Linked DNA regions of Homo sapiens: region 2 is linked to region 1. The links come from fine-mapping of genetic effects on gene expression. A gene starts in region 1. The other region holds a variant in brackets. All regions are shown on one strand. Distances are between the middles of the regions. Region 1 holds the start of PDIA3 (protein disulfide isomerase family A member 3). Region 2 overlaps CTDSPL2 (CTD small phosphatase like 2).

Evidence for each region.
Region 2: its variant is fine-mapped to the expression of PDIA3 in whole blood (INTERVAL, PIP above 0.99).

What each region holds. Positions count from the first base shown.
Region 1 is chr15:43,742,199-43,750,533 of GRCh38, forward strand. PDIA3 (protein disulfide isomerase family A member 3) reads left to right here and starts at 4,240. Exons shown (of 13, transcript NM_005313.5): 1 at 4,240-4,508. The coding sequence starts at 4,342. It also overlaps the pseudogene CATSPER2P1. RefSeq lists a silencer at 3,956-4,255 and enhancers at 4,756-4,805, 4,816-4,865.
Region 2 is chr15:44,524,097-44,532,431 of GRCh38, forward strand. CTDSPL2 (CTD small phosphatase like 2) reads left to right here. Exons shown (of 13, transcript NM_016396.3): 13 at 13-4,942. The coding sequence ends at 78. Among named protein-coding and RNA genes, the nearest start is that of EIF3J-DT, 8.7 kb to the right of the region's middle. The variant A/G (reference allele first, on the strand shown) is at 4,482.

The DNA of each region.
Region 1 (8,335 bases):
CACTGGACACTTCTGTTGAGGAAAATATCTGTGTGACATAAACAGCCAAGAGCTTCATAACTACGCCCTTCTCTTAAAAATTCCTCCTAGGCTGGACGTGGTAACTCATGCCTGTAATCCCAGCACTTTGGGAGGCTGAGGTATGAGGATCACTTAAGCCCAGGAGTTCAAGACCAGCCTGGACAACATAGTGAGACCCTGTCTCTACAAAAAAAAAATCAACATAATTAGCTTGGTGTAGTGGCATGCACCTGTAGTCCAAGCTACTCAGGAGGCTGACGTGGGAGGATCAATAGAGCTCTGGAGGTTGAGGATGCAGCGAGCCATGATCACACCACTATACTCCAACCTAAGTAACAAAGTGAGACTCTGTCACTAAAAAATAAAGTGGGAGACTTCTCTACAACAGTGAGAATGAAACAAGTGAGTAGTTCTACTGTCCTTTCATCATTTCTGAGCAGTTTGAGATTATCAACAAATGAGCTCACTGATTTTGCAGACATCCTTATGTTTTGAATATGTTTCATATAATTTATTATTGGTTTAAGAATCATTTCCTTTTAAGTAATTTTTTTGGCTCAGCTAATATCTTAGTGGTACCTACCTTTCCATACTTTGTGAGCTTTCTTATTTTTACTTGAATAATATTTCTAAATATACTTGTAAAAATGTAAATGTTAGGCTGGGCGCAGTGGCTCACCCCTGTAATCCCAGCACTCTGGGAGGCCGAGGCGGGTGGATCACGAGGTCAGGAGATTGAGACCATCCTGGCTAACACGGTGAAACCCCGTCTCTACTAAAAAATACAAAAAATTAGCTGGGCGTGGTGGCGGGCACCTGTAGTCCCAGCTACTTCGGAGGCTGAGGCAGGAGAATGGCGTGAACCTGGGAGGCTGAGCTTGTGGTGAGCCAAGATCGTGCCACTGCACTCCAGCCTGGGCGACCGAGTGAAACTCCGTCTCAAAAAAAAAAAAAATGTAAATGTTAGATCATTCACCGATAGGCACCAATATCTTTAACAGAAAAGGTTAATGCAAACAATTGTCAGCCTAAACTGACAACAGAAATAAAACTGGTCTTCCCAAGTTCAATTCCTTGTGGATTTGTTACATTGCTACATATTACACCTAGTTTTATGTGTCTAGATGCTCTGTATCTAGTATACGCTTGAGAGCCCTCCAAATATTAATATTTCTTTTTTTTTTTTTTGAGATCAGGTGCAGTGGCGTGATTTCGGCTTACTGCAACCTCCGCCTCCCAGGATCAAGTGTTATTCTGCCACAGCCTCCTGAGTAGCTGGGATTACAGGTGTCCGCCACCACGCCCAGCTAATTTTTTGTATTTTTAGTAGAGATGGGATTTCGCCATGTTGGCTAGGCTGGTCTTGAATTCCTGACCTCAAGTGATTCAACCACCTCGGCCTCCCAAAGTGCTGAGATTACAGGTGTGAGCTACCGTGCCCAGCGAATATTTCTAGATTTTAGCAGTTGCATAAATTCTACTCCAGGAGGCTTAATTGTCCTTAATATAAATGTCACATTTCAAATGACATTCAAAAATGTAAAATGATCAATTTAGAAAAAAAAAATTACTCCTACCCACTTCCTCTTTTTCTTTTTCTTTTTTTTTTTTTTTTGAGACAGAGTTGTACTCTGTCGCCCAGGCTGAAATGCAGTGGCACAATCTCAGCTCACTGAAACCTACGCCTCCTGGGTTCAAGCGATTCTCCTGCCTCAGCCTCCCGAGTAGCTGGGACTACAGGCCATGCCACCACGCCCAGCTAATTTTTTGTATTTTTTAGTAGAAACAGGGTTTCACCATGTTGCCCAGGCTGGTCTTGAACTCCTGAGCTTTGGCAATCCGCCTGCCTCGGCCTCCCACAGTGCTAGGATTACACGTGTGAGCCGCCGCGCCTGGCCTCACTTCCTCTTTCATACAATGTCAGTTCTCACGTATTTCAACCATCAGTACGATCGTATTCAAAAAGATCAGGAAGATGATGAAGTTTTTGAAGAGAGGACCTGTTGTCTCTTAAGGAAACATACAGAGTGGAGTTCTTTCTGATTTATGCAGCTGAAATAATAAGAGCAATAACATAAGCAGTGAGAATGAGACAATGGAGTTTGGGAAGCAAAAAATAAGTCATTAGGCAGATGATCAACAGCCAGGATAAAAATGAGTGACATGAAAGGATACACTCAAGGACCCATCCGGCCCACAAAGAAAGAGGTGGCCTCTGACTGCAGCGCACATGAAGCCTGCTCAACAGCCTCTGGGCATGTGAAATCTGTTCTATACGTTGAGGCTTTATAGAGACGCCCACTAGCTGGTGTTGATCTCCCAACATAAGTTTCTTCTGGCGGGAAGGATCTACAACAAAAATTGAAAAGGGGTAGTGGATAAATACAAACAAAATAGACCAGGTAGGGTTGGGGGCAGGGATACTGTTCAGATAATGGGTCCCCCTAATGGCTTACTGCTGGTCCTTCTCTTCTCACAGCAACTAAGAATTCTGTTTGGAGTGAGAGCAAATGTATTGCTTATGACCAACACTGTCCATGCCCACAAAAGCAGCAGGTTCACTCTCAAAGTTTTAAGAGTCTTTGACAGAAACTGTTCCGTATCATCCACGGCTAGTGGCTATCCTAGGCCTAAAAGTGAAAGACGTGGATTCTATCTCCTTAGTTTTATTTACAAGCCCTTGATTTATCAAGTTTGGTAAACCAGCAACTAAACCGGCCTCCCCAGAATTTTCCACTCTTAAATGTAGAGGATGTGGATAGGAGTCTTAAATTTAAATTAGTGAAGAAATAGGCTGCTGACCAAGTAACTCCTGATAGTGTGTCGCAGCACAGCTTGGCTCAAGCCTTGCAAATGCTCGATGAGAGAGAAAGTATCGATGAGACGTGAACGAATGGCATCAGCTCGGGGAAGCTGCATCTGCCCTTCTTGTTGGTAAGCGGCCATGTCTGCTAAGAAAATGTAAGCATCAAGTGTCATTTCATTCTTGGAGCTGCACCAAGGATTACAGGTTTTCTGTCCCCTCCTCCCCACCCTCTTTGCCCTTAAGATTCCTTAATGTACCCACATCTACGAACTAGGAGCAGTTGGGCAGAACAAACATTCTACTAAGACTCAGGGTTTTTTGAAACAAAAGGGGCTAAGAGTGGTAAAGACATTGAGCAGTCGACCAAGTGGCCAGGCATCTTCACTTTGTGACGGCACTACCAATTAAAAGCTCATTAAAAAAAAAAAAAAAAAAAAAAAAAGTCCGGGCGTGGTGGCTCACGCCTGTAATTCCAGCACTTTGGAATGCCGAGGCGAGCGGATCACGAGGTCAGGAGATAGAGACCATCCTGGCTAACACGGTGAAACCCGGTCTCTACTAAAAATACAAAAAATTAGCCGGGCGTGGTGGCGGGCGCCTGTAGGCCCAGCTACTCGGGAAGCTGAGGCAGGAGAATGGCGTGAACCCGGGAGGCAGAGCTTGCAGTGAGCGGAGATCGCGCCACTGCACTCCAGCGTGGGGGACAGAGCAAGACGGCATCTCAGACAAAACAAAACAAAACAAAACAAGAAACTCAATAAAAAAGGAGCAGCCACAAGGGCAGGGGCCCGGGGCTGGACAAAGAAGAACCTGGGTCCCACCTGGGCCTGAGAGAATCGGGCAATGAGGTGGAGTTGGGGGAGGGCTTGGCCTGCCCACGCAAGAGAAACCAAGTGAAGAGAAATTGGACAAAATGCCAAAGCCTGACATTTTGAAAATGGGTCCCGTCCCAAGTGTGTCCACTCCAACACTCCTTCGGGGGCTAGCTCCTTCTCTCCTCCATTCTCGCTTCTGGGCCTCACCTCAGCCCAGGTTCTCTTCGCCCACTCAGTCCTGACTTCACGCTTCCACCTCCAGCTCAGGCGCCCCCTGAGCCCGGCTACCCCTACGCAGGACGAGCTCAGGGCCGGCTCCCAGCCTCACTGCGCCCCATTTCCCGCCCCGCCCGACCCCCAGGTTTCGGCTCACCCCGGGACCCGGCCCTAGCCCCTGCCCCCAGCCCAGGACCGGGCCCAGCCACGCTCGCCCAGACACTCGCCGCCTCGGCCCCGCCCCGCGCTCCGGCCACTCGGCGGTAACGAGTTGGTCCCGCCCGCCCGACGAAGGCGACGCGCAGCCAATCAGCGGCTGCCACACAGCGGCCCAAGCCGGGTTTGGGGGTTGGGACCTCCGGCTGCAGGTCCGCCTGGGCCAGACGCGCGAGCGCAAGCAGCGGGTTAGTGGTCGCGCGCCCGACCTCCGCAGTCCCAGCCGAGCCGCGACCCTTCCGGCCGTCCCCACCCCACCTCGCCGCCATGCGCCTCCGCCGCCTAGCGCTGTTCCCGGGTGTGGCGCTGCTTCTTGCCGCGGCCCGCCTCGCCGCTGCCTCCGACGTGCTAGAACTCACGGACGACAACTTCGAGAGTCGCATCTCCGACACGGGCTCTGCGGGCCTCATGCTCGTCGAGTTCTTCGCCCCCTGGTGAGTCCATTCTGCCGAGGCGGGGGAAGAAAGGCGGGGCTGGGCCGGGGGCGAGAGCGCGGGGAACTGTTGGGCCTACGCAGCGCCGGGGCCCTTCATTCCTGTGGGCCCCTGCTGCGGCGGGCACATTTCTCATTCCCGGGAGCTGGAGGCGCCTCGCCGAGAGCGGGGGAGTCGGTGCTGATCGGCCCAAGGAAAACCCGAAGGCTGCGCTCACGCAGGGCCTCATCCTTATCTCGGTGCTCTTGTGGCACTTCCTATTTGCAGAGGGTTTTGCCACCCCTTCCCCCAGTCCAATATGTAGCTATATCTTTTCTGCGTGAGTCAGTATTAATGCTCCTCCAGTCTACAGACTAGGCATCCCAAAGCCTTGTAGTGGAAGCGGACGTTTCACCAAATGCAGAAGTCCTGGATCCCTAGGGTATTTCCTTTCATCTTACCTCACGCCGCACAGCCATTGGTTTCTAGCCAAGGTCACTGAGTGGCTGCAGAATGGTCGTAAGTGCTTTCTTGAGGCAGGTAATTTGTCCGTCACATGGTGTACAGTTTCTCCCTTCAGCTGATCACTTACATCTCAGTACCGGCAGATACCTCTGTCCAAACGAAAGGAGTACGTGAACAAGAATAATTCCATCAGAATCTGTCCATATTGTCTGTTTTAAATAGCATTTCTTTAAAATGTCAAAAAAGACTCCAATGAGAAAATAACCAATATTGATTACATACTCCACTTTAGGGTGACTTAAGTGATCAAGGGTGTAAATTCCTTAGATAGAACTAACTCGAAATAAAAAACTGTTGGGGAGAAGGAAGAGCAAATAAGATTTCTGGCCCAGTCAACTTGAGTGTTTGTTTTTTTTTTTTATTTGTGTGTGTGTGTGTTTTTAAACCTCCAGATCATTACCAGAGTAAACAGTGATTCCTTTATCCTGGGGATAGCTCTCTATATATAATTCAATATATATAATTACAGTACTTAATTTTTCCCCTCCTGGCACAGTGACCCTTGGTTTAATACTATCCGTGTTCAAAAATGTCAGTAAAAGTTGTGTATAACTTTTATTTGCTTCAGACTCAGGTCTTCCCTTCTTAGCCTCAAACAACTTGCTAAGGGTTACACGAAAAAAGTCCTGTAGTAAAGACCACCTGAATCAGAATGATGTGCTAGAGATGGCAAATTTTGTTTGCAGCTTGGACAGATTTTGTGTCCAGGGCATTTCTGGGGCTAACTGGCAGTACAGATTACACATATAGATAGTTCTTATACATCTCTGGAACTCATGTTCTCTCTTAGGAACAACTCTTCCCAATTATATAATCATGCTGTTAGCTTTGAGGGGGTGTCAATAATTTGTAAAAACTGGGGGTGTCACTAAGTTTGTCAGATCTGAGTGATGCTTTTTACTACAGGGGTCATGCAACAATTTAAAGTAGGAATTGTTGGAGAATAGTGGGCCACTAGAATATTAGTTTAAAAAAGGAATTTTGGGGCTGGGCATGGTGGCTCCCGCCTGTAATCCCAGCACTTTGGGAGGCCGAGGCAGGCGGATCACCTGAGGTCGGGAGTTCAAGACCAGTCTGACCATCATGGAGAAACCCCCGTCTCTACTAAAAATACGAAATTAGCCGGGCATAGTGGCACATGCCTGTAATCCCAGCTACTCAGGAAGCTGAGGCAGGAGAATAGCTTGAACCCAGGAAGCAGAGGCTGCAGTGAGCCACGATCCTGCCATTGCACTCCAGCCTGGGCAACAAGAGCGAAACTCTGTCTCAAAAAAAAAAACCAGAATTTTTTATTTGAATTGAAGGGGGTGTTTCCTACTTTAAATTGTTACACGTGCTACCCTAAAAACTACATATCCCATCAGGCACTGACTGTCCCAAGAATTGGGTGGATCTCTGCTGTGGTGTCTGCTTTTAATTGGTTTAAAAGAAAAAGTCATCCTCCACAATTTCAGCAAGAAAGATGAGTTTTCTGAATGAGCAATTTGGAGTTAAAGAAGTCTCCTGTTGAGGTCTTTATTTCTTCACATTCCACTACATTTTTTTTGTGTGTGTGTTTGTGTATTTTTTTTTTTTTGAGATGGAGTCTCGCTTTGTTGCCCAGGCTAGAGTGCCATGGCACTATCTTGACTCACTGCAACCTCCGCCTCTTGGGTTCAAGTGATTCCCCTGCCTCAGCCTCCCGAGTAGCTGGGATTACAGGTGCCTGCCACAATGCCCAGCTAATTTTTTTGTATTTTTAATAGAGACAGGGTTTCACCATGTTGGCCAGGCTGGTCTCGAACTCCTGACTTCAGGTGATCTGCCCACCTTGGCCTCCCAAAATGCTGGGATTACTGGCATGAGCCACTGCACCCAGCCTGTTTTTTTGTTTTTGTTTTGTTTTGTTTTGTTTTGTTTTTGAGACAGAGTCTTGCTCTGTTACCCAGGCTGGAGTGCAGTGGCATGGTCTGGGCTCACTGCAACCTCCGCCTCCCGTGTTCAAGTGATTCTCCTGCCTCAGCCTCCTGAGTAGCTGGGATTACAGGCACGCACCACCAAGCCCGGCTAATTTTTGTATTTTAGTAGAGACGGGGTTTCACCATGTTAGCCTGATGGTGAACTCCTGACCTCAGGAGATCCACCCTCCTCGGCCTCCCAAAGTGCTGGGATTACAGGCGTGCGCCACCTAGCCTGGCCTCTGTATTTTTATTTATTAACATTTCAGCTGGAAATGTTTTCTGACTGCTATATTCCTTTGTACAGTTCAGTAGTACTATCTTACAAGAAACAGTTAAAAAATCCTTAGTAAGAGTAAAATGGGGTCTGGCCCTGTTGTGCATTCCTGTAATCCCAGCAGTTTGGGAGGCCAAGGCAGGCAGATCACTTGAGATCAGGAGTTCAGACCAGCCTGGCCAACATGGGGAAACCCCATCTCTACTAAAAATACAAAAATTAGCTGGACGTGGTGGCGCACATCTGTAATCCCAGCTATTTGGGAGGCTGAGTTGGGAAAATCACTTGAACCCAGGAGGCAGTGGCGAGGTAAGAGACCAGCCTGGGCAGCATGGCCAGACCCCATCTCTACTAAAAAATGACAAAAATTAACCGGGCATGGTAGCACACGCCTGTAGTCCTAGCTACTCAGGAGGCTGAGGTGGGAGGAGAAGATCACTTGAGCCTGGGAGGTGGAGGTTGCAGGAAGCTGAGATTGCACCATTGCACTCCAGCCTAAATGACAGTGTGAGACCATCTCAAAAAAGAAAGTAAAATGGGCTTTTTTTTTTTTAACCTTATTCTCGTCACAAAATAGACCTATTTAAGCAAATTCTTTTTCCGCTTTCATGTTTCAAGTGAAAGTGAAAGGTGAAAGCTTGCTTTGCTTGCTTTTTTTTTTTTTGAGACAGTCTCTCTCTGTTGCCAAGGCTGGAGTGCAGTGGCGCGATCCCGGCTCTGCAACCTCCGCCTCCCCTGTCTGGCTAATTTTTTTTTTTTTTTTTTTTTTTAAGTAGAGACCAGGTTTCACCATGTTGGCCAGGCTGGTCTTGAACTCCTGACTTCACCTGAATCACCTGCGTTGGACTCCCAAAGTGCTGGGATTTCAGGCGTGAGCCACCGTGCCTGGCTTAGTGAAAGCTTTCTTTGCAGTTGATTTTGTAGACTAATATTTCCATTATGGAGTTAATCTGCTATATATTTTTAAGGATAAGAGTATCTGAATTTCTCTGGGGAAATAACACTATTTAAATGTTTGGAAATGTCCGAAAATTTATTGATTAGTGTTAATATGTAATATTAAGTCCTTGGCCGGGCACGGTGGCTCACGCCTGTAATCCCAGCACTTT
Region 2 (8,335 bases), 780 kb after region 1:
TTTTCCACGCAGAATGAAGATGTTCGACCACACATCAGAGACAGATTTCGCTTGCATGATTTGCTGCCCCCAGATTAAGTACAAAGACTTGTCAAATCACTGAAGGGGGAGAGAATGCAGGACCCTTTTGGACTAAGACAAAAACATTGCCATTACTGTTGAAATTTTGCATTTTTGTACCCCGTCTTGCTTTTCTTATCTTTGGTGCCCAATAATAATTAAGGGTTACAGAAAGAGACTTTATCTATCTCAGATCGAATACATATAGTAGGTAGGCTAAAACAGAAGAGTCTTTAGAACTAGTGCAACTCCAGTGAAATTTTTTATGTACAGGACATCTGCAGTTTATAAAGAATTCTGTTTCTGCCACCAGCAGTTTGACCTGTAGTCACACAGGATTTTATGATAATAACAGAGATGAAAATGGACTTTTATTTTCTCTCTGTTTGGTGCTCTAAGTGGGTTTGTAGCCACTTTTCTGTTACTTTATGATTCTCATTTCAACAGGAATGGCCAGTAAAAGTTGTTTTATTTTTCCTGTTAAGGTTTATAACCTTTTTACATTTTTGACCTGTATTAGATTAGAATTTCATTATGCATTCCTTTTAGTTGAGGCGCTTCATAGTTTTCTGGAGATAGTCAATTTTTAGTTTTTTATTATACATTTGAATGGCCGTTTTCCTGCTTTGTCTGCCTGCACATTGTATATTTGTTTAAAAATATTCTCTACTTTTAGTCTATGTAAGTTTCATTTAGAAAGACATGCATTTATATTTTGTTTCTGTAATATTCTACTGTAGGTGAAATCTTTTCAAAAATCAAGAGACTGGGTAGATAAGAATATATGAATGACTAATATACAAAAGATTTAAACCATTGTGATGGCGTATATTCTCAAATGGTAATATCTTGCAATGGCACACAGATTTAATGGATAAAGGTATACCTCAGACTTCACTGTGCTCACAAATCTTTGAGGAGAAAGTTTGGTCACCTGTTTGGCTTGATTTAGTTACTGCTGCCTTTGGTTTTCTCCAGGAATGAAGTATTCAGCACAGTGACTCAGTATTTTTAGTTATTTTGCATGGGCTGGTAGTACCTCTGTTATGCTCTCAGTTACAATCAATTTAAAACTGTATAACAGTCTTGGTACCTAACAGTAGCTATGCATAATCCTGTGGCACAGTACACTCCCAAGCCACCAATGCAGTTAATATGCTCTCATAGTGGTTTTTCTATGCTATATGAAAATAGTCTTCAAGCCTTGGTTCTCTAATGCAGCTACCACAAGAGGTTGATATTTTTATAGTGGCGTGTAATCTCCTTTTCGGGAGGCTTTTTATGGAAGGTAGAATTTGTAAAAGTTCGTATGCTTTGCCTCTCAACTGCATTAACATGCCACAGGCTCAGACTGTTTTTGTGTAAAGGATGTCAAAGAACGGCACTTTTTCTAAAGAGAAGTTTGATATTTTGTATGCTTGTTAAGAAAGTACAGTATTGGAAATTAAAGGTGGACAACTGATAATTGAGGAGTATGTCAATTAATTTTTTATGTATATTACCTGTTTACTTGTACAACTTACTGTACAAATTACATGCAGCTTCATTTTCAAATGAATCCTTAAAATAAGGAAATCTTTTTAGGAAAACATTTAATTTTTGTATTTTTGATTTTAAAGGCATGAGTTATGTCAATTTTCAGTGTATTAATGAAGATTTTAACTTTTCATCAGGTTGAGTGTTTTCTTACTATATTATCTGTTGTGTATGTAGTTAGCATATTGTGTCACTGAACTGTTTAAAAATCTAGCATGTAGAGCAAGCCTGTTTTGTGGAAAATCCTTATTCATTAAAAAAATAATCATGGCAGATTTTCTGCAAAAAAAAAACAAAAGCATTTGCAATTCAGAATACTGATTTTTTTAATTTTATTTAAAGAAAGGTATTTTGCTTGCAGGAAAAAAATACTACAGATTCATTTTAATGAGAATCTTTGAAATGTATTTATCTTTAGGGCATCTGGGCATCTTTATGCTGTTTGTCTTCTGTCTTTCTTGAAATAAAATGTACATACGTTACCTTTACATATGCTCTTGCTCAAAATTGTGAACCTAGTTACATTTCTCCCTGCTCCCTTCCTTTTTATGCTCAAACAGCGAAACCCAAAACTTAAAAGATCTGAACTTTCAGCATGCATTCTGATTGCTGAAAGATTTCCTGATTTAGTGCATTCTCAAAAGGGCTTTCCCATAATCTAAAGGGAAATGTAAGCACCTATACTCTTGTGCCTGTGGGCACTTCAATAATAAAAACCAACTTTTTAAACTAATCATCTTTTATCAATGATAAAGTTGTTTTCAGTCCCACACTAGGAGAGTTCCTTTAAGTCAGCTGATCAAGCATAAGATACTTCCGTAAAGAAATAAACTAAGAAAATTTTTTATGGCTTGAGAAAATTCCTTGAGGCCAAATTAATATATTTTTCTTTGTTATTTTATTTGAGTCATTTTAAATTTGTTAATACAAAATTTAAGATAATTTACAGAGACAATTTATCCAGCTTCCTTCTACCTTAATACAATGTTTTGTCTTCCCATTATCCTCTCTTTTCTTTATCTGTTGGTAGATGTAAAAAACTTCCATTTAGTTAATCGGAGGTGTGTATTTTTTAAATTGAAATGTGCCCAGCCCCTTCAGCTCACACAGGAAACATGAACTCTTAAAAAACTGACTAGTAAATGCAGGAGAGGTGGATACCTGATGAGACACAGCGAAAGTGACCTGTATACACATTACAACTCTGGAGTACATATTAAAGTCGTGCTATTTCCAGTGGTAAATGTCTGACTTTTAAGACATTCTTTTAAATATTTGTATCATTGTTAGGATGTTTTAATCAGTTGTTTTTTAATTCCATGTAATATATGTAGCCCTCATCAGATTTATATCACCATATTTCTCCTTGTGTCCTAAGAGAATTGATGACAATTCGTAACCATAAATTGTTTTATATTAGCTAGTATGTATATTTATTTTTACCCAATGGCTTTATCTGTTTCCCAAAATTTGTTTGGGATTTGTTGAAAGCATTGTGTAACTTCTATAAACGGCTATTTTCTTGTAACTGTCAGTGAAATGAATGTGTACATTGTTTTCTTGTATTTCTCTGGGTTGTTTTTTGTTTTTTTTTCCAAGGGTTAACATAGAATGTTTTTTTTAAAAAATTATCTTTGGCCAATGACTTTTTCATCTAGATCTTACTTTCATTCAACCTTCTAAAGAAGTTCGTTTCTCATTGTTTTGTTCTGTCAACTTGCCTGAAAAACAGAGACTTCATCTCATCAATGAAGAAAGCATTTCATTATTCCTACAGATCTTTCCTGCGAGCACAGAATTCTTCATAAGGACCAGATCTCTTCCATGTCTGTGTCAATCACATAAAGCTAAAATGTAAAGGACATTGAAGCCTTTATTTAATTGTACTAATATGATGGTGTTATATACTACATCATTAGCTAGTTAAGGTTTTCTGACCTGACTTCTCTTTGTCTTCCTAGGTATTTATTTGTTATCTTTTAATCTTGTGTATCTAAATTAACTTAGTTAATAGTTACCCACCGAATAACTATGCCAAGCAACTAGTAAAGAATGTTTATTTTATTTCCCCTTATAGGGGAAGAGTGGACTGGGAACAAAAATGTATGGGCCAAAAGGCCTTAGGGTTGTCATTCATTGACTTTCTTATTCCTCTCATGAGCTATAATTGAGTATAGTATTTTTTTAGTGCTGATGTCATTACTTCTCATGTCTTCCCCTGAGTTGAAAGCCTACGACAAACATGTATAAAATACATTTAAGAATTTTCAGAATATGAACCACAAAACTCAGTATCTTATATTTAAATGCTACTTAAGTTATTATTGGAATCCAAGTCTCACTAACTAGGGTACATTTTTATAAAATGTTTCTCTGTATCTTGAATTGAAATTACTTGCCCAGAGGCAAGAGTTCTGGGGATATAACATGATTTGAGATCTTTTTTAAAAAAGGGTGGGGCGGCGGGGGAGAGAGCGACAAGTTTATACTAGTTTATGCTTTTGATATTAGTATTTTAAGATACATCAGTTGATCCCGAAACCTGACCATTAGAATTACTCTGAGGAGCTTTTAAAATAGATTCCTGGAGCCTACCCCTGGAAAATTGTCTCGCTGGATCTCGAGAGGGGCCTGAGAGTTCTGGCTTTTTTTTTTTGTTTGGTTGGTTTTGTTTTGTTTTGTTTTGTTTTTTCTTTAAAGCTCTCCTGGTGATTCTAATAGCCAGTATTGGGTAATCAATGTTTTAGCTAAATGTGACACTGGTTTGAGAGTAGGCAACAAAATTAAAGTTCACCAGACATCTCTTTGTGGTAGAGTTTTTTTTTTTTTAAACTGGGACCAGATTTCACAGAGCTTATTCAAGATACATGGAGGAATAATAAAGA[A/G]GATTAAGGCTACTGCTCATTATCATTTTTGTCTTTCATATTTTTTAAGGGTTTGCATTTCTAGGACTTGGAATAGTTGACCATATACATAGCTAAAGGACATGTCCCTGAATGAGACCATTATATATATTATCTGTAAAATATTTCACTATTTTTTTATTTTATAAATCTTTGTAGAAATAAGCAATGAAATACTACTTTCATCTTTTGAAATGGGATTTTTCAAGGCAGTGTCCTTTTGGCATTAAGGTAGGGGGGAGTTAATATTCTCTCTGCCTTGTTTCCACGTGAATCAATATTAAAGTCATGGACATTTTAAAATCTCAATTTAATTTCTTCTTATTTACTATGCAGTATAGCCGTGAACAAGTAATGTAGATTTAGTTTTCTCATCTTCAAATGCCCTGATCACCCTACCTCACAGGGTTGTTGTGGGGATAAATAAAACTTTTATGGAAGCACTTCTCTTTGATGATATTTTATCAGCCATCAGAAACAATATAATTTCTAACAACATTTGTACAGTGCTTTTTTTTGTTTAGAAGCATATCTTTTTTTCACATTACTTTCCCTTTTGATGTTGAAAAACATAAAGGAAATTGAGACTTGGAGAAAGCTGTGACCCAAGACTATGCAGTTCCTCTGGGAGACTTGAATTTAGTTATCACCATAATATTCTGTTTCCTAGTGCCTTGGCATTTTGTATGATTATGTTTGTTCATGAATACAAAGCTTTCTCAAGTTTGTAAGTCTATTTAGCCAACAAAATGTTCTTATAAAATGTAAGGAATATACAGTGGTACAAACTAGACCTATAGGTAATAATTCATTTTAAACTAGAAGGAAATTTCAAGTTCTAGGTGTACTCTATTTTAGTGTTTTCCCAAGATCACAGAGCTAGGACTAGAATGTAAGTCTCTTAATTACCGTTACAGTAATGATTTTGGAAGGGCATTCTTTATTGCTGGAACTACTGTGAGCAGAGGTGAAAAACACTTGAAGATACCAACCAGAATTAAAAGGGGTTGGTTTTGAAAAGGAGAGAGAAGATGGCAAGAGTGAACCAGATTATAGTGCGCTAAGATGAGGAATATACTCGATGTATGGGCTAAAATAATGAGCCAGTATCACTATAGCATAGTAGCACTCTGGTCCCACACTAGTTTCTGTGATGAGACTTTGTGATAGCTATTTTCCCTAAGCTCCAAAGGAGTTTGAGGCGCACACAGTTTTGAAAGCCACTGCAATAATCCTTGAGAAATAAGTGATTGCACTATAACATTCTATTCAGGCAGATAGTTGACTTGAGAGCATGGTCAATGAAAGCATGAAGTTCAGAATCAAATTTGAGTTCAAGTCCCTGAAAACCCAGCCACTTAATAAGCAAGAGGGTTGTTACCTACCTTTCAGAATTATAAGGATCAAATGAAATGTCAAAACATGTTATAAGCCGTAAGCAATATACAAGTAACATGAGGATGGAGATGTTAAAGCAGGTAGTTTTCTGAAGGAGGGATGAGAACTATATACCAGGTTTTGAGAGATGTCTGAAGCCAGAAAGCAGGAATGTGCAGTAGGATCAGGATATTGTAATACCACAGGACCACAGATGTCAGGGAGGGTTTTTAAGAAAGACAGCAGTGGGTTGCATTTTTTAAAAGACCTGTTAGGCCGGGTGCAGTGGCTCACGCCTATTATTCCAGCACTTTGGGAGGCTGAAGTGGGCAGATAATTGAGGTCAGGAGTTGAGACCAGCCTGGACAACATGGTGAAACCCCCGTCTCTTCTAAAAATACAAAAATTAGCCAGGTATCGTAGTGCACGCCTGTAGTCCCAGCTACTTGGAAGGCTGAGGCAGGAGAATCGCTTGAACCAGAGAGGCAGAGGTTGCAGTGAACCGAGATTGTGCCACTGCACTCCAGCCTCGGTGACAGAGACTCTATCTCAAAAAATAAAAAATAAAAACCACTACGTGTTAGGCACCATGCCAGGCTCTGTGAATGGTAGAAGGTGGCAAAACAGACAATGCCTTAAAATCTTAAGCTTAAAATCTACCAGTAGAGAAAGTCAAGATCCTTTTATTGGTTAAAGGGCTAAAGCTAGGCTTGGCTGTGGGGAGAGGAGGCTCAGGGGAGTAAATGATCAGGTGCGTATTTTAAAAGATCGCTTTGGAAATAGAGTGGGTGGGTGGGAGGCCAGTTAGCAGTTATATAACTCTCCATGTAAAGTATTCCCTTTCTCTAAGTTAATGCACTGGGTGATAGCATCATAGTGGACAGTCAGGTCAGAAGATTGTTAAGGTTCTGGGGAGAGTATGGCTTGTGTGGCTTACTGAGAGCTTACTAATCATGTGGATTTTAGGCACTCCCTGAGGAAGGCATGTTTTTTCCGCTGGCCAGACAGGAATAGGAAGGTACTGTAGGATTTTATGGTACCCTGTAAGTATGGAAAAATATATGGAAGTTGAATGGAGACAGTTTCGTGTCTTAAGACTCATGGGGGTAGGGTTTTGGTTTTTCGTTTTGGTTTAAAATAAAAAATTTCATTTAACTTAATCAAATCATATAAATCAAAAACTTTATTTATTTAATTATTGAGATGTAATCTTGCTCTGTTGTCCAGGCTGGAGTGCAGTGGTGGGATCTCAGCTCCCTGCAACCTCTGCCTCCCGGGTTCCAGCGATTCTCCCGCCTCAGCCTCCCTAGTAGCTGGGACTACAGGCGTGCACCATGATGCTCAGCCAATTTTTGTATTTTTAGTAGAGACAGGGTTTCACCATGTTGGCCAGGCTGGGCTCAAACTCCTGACCTCAAGTGATCCACCCGCCTGCCTTGGCCTCCCAAAGTTCTGGGATTACAGGCATGAGCCACTGTGCTCTGCCAAAATTTGTTTTTACATGTACTCTTTTTCCCAAGAAATCATTAGAAAAAACATGCAATGACTCCATAATTTTGCACTTTTATAAATAGGAGTTTTGACCTGCCCCTATTTCCAATTAAAACAATCTGCTCTTCAGCCTTAACCTAGTCCATCTTTATAAGATTTTGAGTCTGATGCTTAAGGTACTTCCTCTTAAAAAGAAGCTATAAAGGGGCCGGGCGCATGGCTCACACCTGTAATCCTAGCACTTTGGAAGGCCGAGGCGGGCGGATCACGAGGTCAGGAGATCAAGACCACGGTGAAACCCCGTCTCTACTAAAAATACAAAAAAAATTAGCCGGGCGCGGTGGCGGGCACCTGTAGCCCCAGCTACTCGGGAGGCTGAGGCAGGAGAATGGCGTGAACCCAGGAGGCGGATCTTGCAGTGAGCCGAGATTGTGCCACTGCACTCCAGCCTGGGTAACAGAGCGAGAGTCCATCTCAAAAAAAAAAAAAAAAAAAAAAAAAAAGAACTCTAAGGCCAGGCACAATGGCTCACACCTGTAATCCCTGCACTTTGGGAGGCTGAGGCGGGGGGATCACCTGAGGTTAGGAGTTCGAGACCAGCCTGGCCAACACGATGAAACCCATCTCTACTAAAACTACAAAAAATTATCTGGGCATGGTGGCACACACTTGTAATCCCAGCTGCTCAGGAGGCTGAGGCAGGAGAATCACTGGAACCTGGGAGGCAGAGGTTGCCGTGAGCAGAGATTGCGCCAGCCTGGGCAACGAGAGCAAAATGTCATCTCAAAAAAAAGAACCTATAAGTAGCTCTGCTTCATTTGTGTTGTTTATTTACTCTTCTATAGCTTCAATGATGAAACTTTTTTTTTTTTTTTGACATGAAGTCTCACTCTGTTACTTAGTCTGGAGTGCAGTGGCGGGATCTCAGCTCACTGCAACCTCCACCTCCTGGGTTCAAGTGATTCTCC